Homo sapiens: one gene and its partner. The protein of the gene in region 1 interacts with the protein of each later gene in a pairwise test. Each region holds a gene or a part of one and is shown on either strand. Other genes may lie near its edges.

Region 1 (3,816 bases):
AGATAGATTTAGAAGTTTAATATAAAATTATGAAACCAACATTTCACATCAGCAGAAGAAAGCTGGATAATTTAATCCATTATGTAAACTTCCTGTCTGTTTATAAAAAACATAAACATCCCTATGTCACACTCAGAAAAGTGTGTCCCACTCAGAAAAACTCTAGAAAACGCTCTTCCCATCAGAACAGACATACCAGTGCTGCCTGTCCAATCACAACCCTTGAGCATCAGTATCTTGAAGTCTTTCTACACAGCATACTCTTTACCTTTATAAGACTTTTCTTATAATGTCTTATAAGATCATTTTTTAAGTCCGGAACAATGGTACTTGGAAATGGTTTCTGAGTTCTCGTGTGTGTAAGTATTCTCCTGACCGCATCTTTCTCCTGCTCTGTTCACACATCTGGTTCTTTCTCTTGCAACCTGGAAATGAAGTGGGGTTCCAGGAAGAACCTGCTGGCAGTGAACAGCGTCATCTCCGTGGCCATCCTCAGCGAGCGGGCCATGTCGTCACACTTCCACCAGCAAGTGGCCGCCATGCAGGTCTCCCCGAGTCTGCTGAATGTGTGCTTCCTGTCCACGGGGGTCGCACACAGCCTGCGCACCGACATGCACATCAGTGGAGTGTTTGCCACCAAGGTGACTGCCGAGGGGACCCGTGGGTGGGACACAGACAGAAGAACTGCCCCATGGCCAGGTAGTTCAGGGCAGCAAGGGCCCCAGATGGCAGGTTAGGCCACTCTCAGTTCCATCCTAGATTCTCTTATTTCCTGGATATCCATGTACATTATATTCATAAAGAAAATCGTAATAAGAATATAGGCCAGGCACGGTGGCTGACGCCTGTAATCCCAGCGCTTTGGGAGGCTGAGGTGGGCAGATCACTTGAGGTCAGGAGTTCGAGACCAGCCTGGCCAAGATGCTAAAACTCCAAAATACAAAAATTAGCCAGGCGTCGGGGTGTATGCCTGTAATCCCAGCTACCTGGGAGGCTGAGGCAGGAGAATCGCTTGAACCCAGGAGGTGGAGGTTGCTGTGAGCTGAGATCGTGCCACTGCACTCCAGCCTGGACGACAGAGTGAGACCATGTCTCAAAAAAAAGAACATAATAATAAAAAATATATACACCTGCCATGTACCCTTATAAATTAAAAAAAATGTCAGTTAAACAATAAATTTAAAAAGTAAATAAAGGAAAGAGAGGGATACTTTCTTTGCCATTCCCCAAACCTAAAAAAAAAAGAAAAAAAAAAACAGAAAAGAATCATAATAAAACCCATGGATATCTTATATAACACGGAAAACAGCCTCAGCCTGTCCACAGAGGACCCAGTGATCTCATAGTCGTAGGATGATGGAGCAGCAGTGTTCAGAAGTGTTTAGAGGAGGCTTTCGAGGTGTGCAGTGGGGTGTACAGTTGCACCTCACTTTTCCCGCCCTTTGCCTCGAATGTCCGTGGTTCTTTTCAGGATGCTGTCGCAGTCTGGAACGGAAGGCAGGTGGCGATCTTCGAGCTTTCTGGAGCCGCGATACGGAGTGCAGGTGGGTTCTTTTCACCCGGACAGAGGCACTCCCACTACCTGGCTTTATTTCCTCCCTGCCTAATGAGAGGGCCACTGTGGTGCAGTTGAGGGCTGGCACAGGGGCTGGGGAGACCCTTGTGCTACTGCCTGCGCTTCCAGAGCCAGGGCTGCAGCTGTGGCCCCGTGCTGCCAGTGCATCCTGGGGCCTGCTGTGTGGGCGTAAACAACCACCGTGCTTTTGTGGGGTTCCTTCCAGGGAGGAGGTGGCTGCCTCCCATCTTCTGAAATGTTTCCAGACCATGCACAGCAGTGAGACCTGTGGTGTCTTGACCCAAGGCCAGCCTCTGTCTGAAACTTCAAGGTGGCTCCTCAGACATGCTCCGTTAATCTCAAACACCCTTCTAGGTCCCCAAGATCTCTCCAGCTCTCTGCGGTTAGTTTTGCCATTGTTGCCCAGGCTGGAGTGCAGTGGTGCAATCTCACCTCACTGCACCCTCCGCCTCCCGGGCTCAAGCAGTTGTCCTGCCTCAGTCTCCCCAGTAGCTGGGATTACAGGTGCGTGCCACCACACCCGGCTAATTTTTATATTTTAGTAGAGACGGGGTTTCAACATGTTGGCCAGGCTGGTCTCGAACTCCTGACCTCAGGTGATTTGCCTGCCTCGGCCTCCCAAAGTGGTGTGATTACAGGCGTGCGCCTCCGCGCCCGGCCTTGGCCATTGTTTTCTTCCTGCTCTCTTCAGCACATCTATGGGAGTTTCCTGAGGCAGCTGTAGCAAAGGACCACAAACTTGGTGGCTTCAGACAAAGATGTGGGAAATGTATTCTCCCATAGTTCTGGAGGCCAGAGGTCCCAAATCAGTTTCACTTTTCACTGGACAGAAGTGATCGCGTCAGCAGGGCCACGCTTCCTCTGCAGCCCCAGGGGAGAACCCGTTTCAGCTTCTGGTGGCTGCCAGCAGTCTTTGGCTTGTGGTCACAAACCTCCAGTCTCTGTCTCTCTGGTCACATTGCCCCTGGTCTGAAATCTGCCTCCCTCCCTCTTACAGGGACACTCGTGAGTGTATTTAGGGCCTACCTGGATAACTCAGTATAATCTCCCCATCCCAAGACCTTACCATCTTCTGCCATATAAAGTAATATTCACACATGCCAGGGAGCAGGACCTGGCATCTTTAGGGAACCTTTCCCAGCCCATTGCAGTGGCCCCGCCACCAGGATGTGCAGCTCAGCTCCCCCCATTCCACAGTTATCACCTTCACCAACCCTGCCCCTCAGCCGCCTGCCCACACAGGAGGCCGCGTGTCATGCTCTTCCCAGGGCGGTTGCCCCCTCGTGTGTTTGAACGCCCCCACCTCTTCAGGCACATCCATCACTAGTTTCCGCCTCTCCCTCAGATCTTTCCCACATTTTTTTTTCTCTGCTAACACTTTGTTGCTTAAAGTTCTCTCATAACATTTTTCACACTCTGTCCAGGATTGTACCGACACTTCACATCCCCTCTCCTCCCCTCCCCTCCACTCCCATCCCCTCCACTCCCCTCCCCTCCCCTCCGCTCCCCTCCCCTCCCCACCCCCCGCTCCCCTCCCCTCCCCCGCTCCTCCCCTCCCCTCTCCTCTGTAGACTCCCTAGGAGCAAGGGTGAACTTCTTATTTCCCCCAGTAGAACCAACACAGCAGGTGCTGGGATATTTTTTGTTTTGTGTATATTATCATCTCCCTAACTAGATTCTTTCTGAGACAGTCTTGCTGTGTCACCCAGGCTGGAGTGCAGTGGTGTGATGGCGGCTCACTGCAGCCTCCATCTCCTGGGCTCAAGCGATTCTCATGCCTCAGCCTCCCAAGTAGGTGGGATTACAGGCATGCACCACAACACCTGGCCAATTTTTGTATTTTTAGTAGAGACAACATTCCACGATGTTGGCCAGGCTGGTTTCAAACTCCTGACCTCATGTGATCCACCTGCTTCAGCCTCCCTAAATGCTGGGATTACAGGTGTGAGCCACCAGGCCCGCCTCTAGATTCTTATCTATTATGTTGCTGCAAAAGTAATTGTGGTTGATGGCAAAAACTGCTTTTGCACCAACCCTAATAGTTAGGTCCAGGGACCAGGGCTTGTGGCCACCAGAGTTCCACCTAAAATGAGCAAACATTTGCTTAACTGGGTGTGTTGTCATAGATGCTGTGCTGCTGGGAGCACCAGCTGCCAGATGGGAGGGGTGAAGGGCAGGGAGCCCAGAGCCCAGCATGGAGTCTCCACATCAGCCCAGGACCCGCACGCACTGCCACTGCT
Region 2 (3,816 bases), on another chromosome or scaffold:
GAGGCATAAAACATCTGGTAAAATTCGCCTTCTAATGAGACGAGAGCAAGTATTGAAAATCTGTGCAAATCATTACATCAGTCCAGATATGAAATTGACACCAAATGCTGGATCAGACAGATCTTTTGTATGGCATGCCCTTGATTATGCAGATGAGTTGCCAAAACCAGAACAACTTGCTATTAGGTTCAAAACTCCTGAGGAAGCAGCACTTTTTAAATGCAAGTTTGAAGAAGCCCAGAGCATTTTAAAAGCCCCAGGAACAAATGTAGCCATGGCGTCAAATCAGGCTGTCAGAATTGTAAAAGAACCCACAAGTCATGATAACAAGGATATTTGCAAATCTGATGCTGGAAACCTGAATTTTGAATTTCAGGTTGCAAAGAAAGAAGGGTCTTGGTGGCATTGTAACAGCTGCTCATTAAAGAATGCTTCAACTGCTAAGAAATGTGTATCATGCCAAAATCTAAACCCAAGCAATAAAGAGCTCGTTGGCCCACCATTAGCTGAAACTGTTTTTACTCCTAAAACCAGCCCAGAGAATGTTCAAGATCGATTTGCATTGGTGACTCCAAAGAAAGAAGGTCACTGGGATTGTAGTATTTGTTTAGTAAGAAATGAACCTACTGTATCTAGGTGCATTGCGTGTCAGAATACAAAATCTGCTAACAAAAGTGGATCTTCATTTGTTCATCAAGCTTCATTTAAATTTGGCCAGGGAGATCTTCCTAAACCTATTAACAGTGATTTCAGATCTGTTTTTTCTACAAAGGAAGGACAGTGGGATTGCAGTGCATGTTTGGTACAAAATGAGGGGAGCTCTACAAAATGTGCTGCTTGTCAGAATCCGAGAAAACAGAGTCTACCTGCTACTTCTATTCCAACACCTGCCTCTTTTAAGTTTGGTACTTCAGAGACAAGTAAAACTCTAAAAAGTGGATTTGAAGACATGTTTGCTAAGAAGGAAGGACAGTGGGATTGCAGTTCATGCTTAGTGCGAAATGAAGCAAATGCTACAAGATGTGTTGCTTGTCAGAATCCGGATAAACCAAGTCCATCTACTTCTGTTCCAGCTCCTGCCTCTTTTAAGTTTGGTACTTCAGAGACAAGCAAGGCTCCAAAGAGCGGATTTGAGGGAATGTTCACTAAGAAGGAGGGACAGTGGGATTGCAGTGTGTGCTTAGTAAGAAATGAAGCCAGTGCTACCAAATGTATTGCTTGTCAGAATCCAGGTAAACAAAATCAAACTACTTCTGCAGTTTCAACACCTGCCTCTTCAGAGACAAGCAAGGCTCCAAAGAGCGGATTTGAGGGAATGTTCACTAAGAAGGAGGGACAGTGGGATTGCAGTGTGTGCTTAGTAAGAAATGAAGCCAGTGCTACCAAATGTATTGCTTGTCAGAATCCAGGTAAACAAAATCAAACTACTTCTGCAGTTTCAACACCTGCCTCTTCAGAGACAAGCAAGGCTCCAAAGAGCGGATTTGAGGGAATGTTCACTAAGAAGGAAGGACAGTGGGATTGCAGTGTGTGCTTAGTAAGAAATGAAGCCAGTGCTACCAAATGTATTGCTTGTCAGTGTCCAAGTAAACAAAATCAAACAACTGCAATTTCAACACCTGCCTCTTCGGAGATAAGCAAGGCTCCAAAGAGTGGATTTGAAGGAATGTTCATCAGGAAAGGACAGTGGGATTGTAGTGTTTGCTGTGTACAAAATGAGAGTTCTTCCTTAAAATGTGTGGCTTGTGATGCCTCTAAACCAACTCATAAACCTATTGCAGAAGCTCCTTCAGCTTTCACACTGGGCTCAGAAATGAAGTTGCATGACTCTTCTGGAAGTCAGGTGGGAACAGGATTTAAAAGTAATTTCTCAGAAAAAGCTTCTAAGTTTGGCAATACAGAGCAAGGATTCAAATTTGGGCATGTGGATCAAGAAAATTCACCTTCATTTATGTTTCAGGGTTCTTCTAATACAGAATTTAAGTCAACCAAAGAAGGATTTTCCATCCCTGTGTCTGCTGATGGATTTAAATTTGGCATTTCGGAACCAGGAAATCAAGAAAAGAAAAGTGAAAAGCCTCTTGAAAATGGTACTGGCTTCCAGGCTCAGGATATTAGTGGCCAGAAGAATGGCCGTGGTGTGATTTTTGGCCAAACAAGTAGCACTTTTACATTTGCAGATCTTGCAAAATCAACTTCAGGAGAAGGATTTCAGTTTGGCAAAAAAGACCCCAATTTCAAGGGATTTTCAGGTGCTGGAGAAAAATTATTCTCATCACAATACGGTAAAATGGCCAATAAAGCAAACACTTCCGGTGACTTTGAGAAAGATGATGATGCCTATAAGACTGAGGACAGCGATGACATCCATTTTGAACCAGTAGTTCAAATGCCCGAAAAAGTAGAACTTGTAACAGGAGAAGAAGATGAAAAAGTTCTGTATTCACAGCGGGTAAAACTATTTAGATTTGATGCTGAGGTAAGTCAGTGGAAAGAAAGGGGCTTGGGGAACTTAAAAATTCTCAAAAACGAGGTCAATGGCAAACTAAGAATGCTGATGCGAAGAGAACAAGTACTAAAAGTGTGTGCTAATCATTGGATAACGACTACGATGAACCTGAAGCCTCTCTCTGGATCAGATAGAGCATGGATGTGGTTAGCCAGTGATTTCTCTGATGGTGATGCCAAACTAGAGCAGTTGGCAGCAAAATTTAAAACACCAGAGCTGGCTGAAGAATTCAAGCAGAAATTTGAGGAATGCCAGCGGCTTCTGTTAGACATACCACTTCAAACTCCCCATAAACTTGTAGATACTGGCAGAGCTGCCAAGTTAATACAGAGAGCTGAAGAAATGAAGAGTGGACTGAAAGATTTCAAAACATTTTTGACAAATGATCAAACAAAAGTCACTGAGGAAGAAAATAAGGGTTCAGGTACAGGTGCGGCCGGTGCCTCAGACACAACAATAAAACCCAATCCTGAAAACACTGGGCCCACATTAGAATGGGATAACTATGATTTAAGGGAAGATGCTTTGGATGATAGTGTCAGTAGTAGCTCAGTACATGCTTCTCCATTGGCAAGTAGCCCTGTGAGAAAAAATCTTTTCCGTTTTGGTGAGTCAACAACAGGATTTAACTTCAGTTTTAAATCTGCTTTGAGTCCATCTAAGTCTCCTGCCAAGTTGAATCAGAGTGGGACTTCAGTTGGCACTGATGAAGAATCTGATGTTACTCAAGAAGAAGAGAGAGATGGACAGTACTTTGAACCTGTTGTTCCTTTACCTGATCTAGTTGAAGTATCCAGTGGTGAGGAAAATGAACAAGTTGTTTTTAGTCACAGGGCAAAACTCTACAGATATGATAAAGATGTTGGTCAATGGAAAGAAAGGGGCATTGGTGATATAAAGATTTTACAGAATTATGATAATAAGCAAGTTCGTATAGTGATGAGAAGGGACCAAGTATTAAAACTTTGTGCCAATCACAGAATAACTCCAGACATGACTTTGCAAAATATGAAAGGGACAGAAAGAGTATGGTTGTGGACTGCATGTGATTTTGCAGATGGAGAAAGAAAAGTAGAGCATTTAGCTGTTCGTTTTAAACTACAGGATGTTGCAGACTCGTTTAAGAAAATTTTTGATGAAGCAAAAACAGCCCAGGAAAAAGATTCTTTGATAACACCTCATGTTTCTCGGTCAAGCACTCCCAGAGAGTCACCATGTGGCAAAATTGCTGTAGCTGTATTAGAAGAAACCACAAGAGAGAGGACAGATGTTATTCAGGGTGATGATGTAGCAGATGCAACTTCAGA

What was found.
Region 2: the proteins of IFT140 (region 1) and RANBP2 interact in a two-hybrid assay, tested with the Homo sapiens proteins (one large-scale study listed by BioGRID and IntAct).

Annotation. Positions count from the first base shown.
Region 1 is NC_000016.10:1,581,042-1,584,857, reverse strand, and holds part of IFT140 (intraflagellar transport protein 140 homolog), read left to right. Parts: intron 1-437; coding exon 438-641; intron 642-1,471; coding exon 1,472-1,544; intron 1,545-3,816. UniProt on the Homo sapiens protein: Component of the IFT complex A (IFT-A), a complex required for retrograde ciliary transport and entry into cilia of G protein-coupled receptors (GPCRs).
Region 2 is NC_000002.12:108,764,205-108,768,020, forward strand, and holds part of RANBP2 (E3 SUMO-protein ligase RanBP2), read left to right. Parts: coding exon 1-3,816. UniProt on the Homo sapiens protein: E3 SUMO-protein ligase which facilitates SUMO1 and SUMO2 conjugation by UBE2I. Involved in transport factor (Ran-GTP, karyopherin)-mediated protein import via the F-G repeat-containing domain which acts as a docking site for substrates.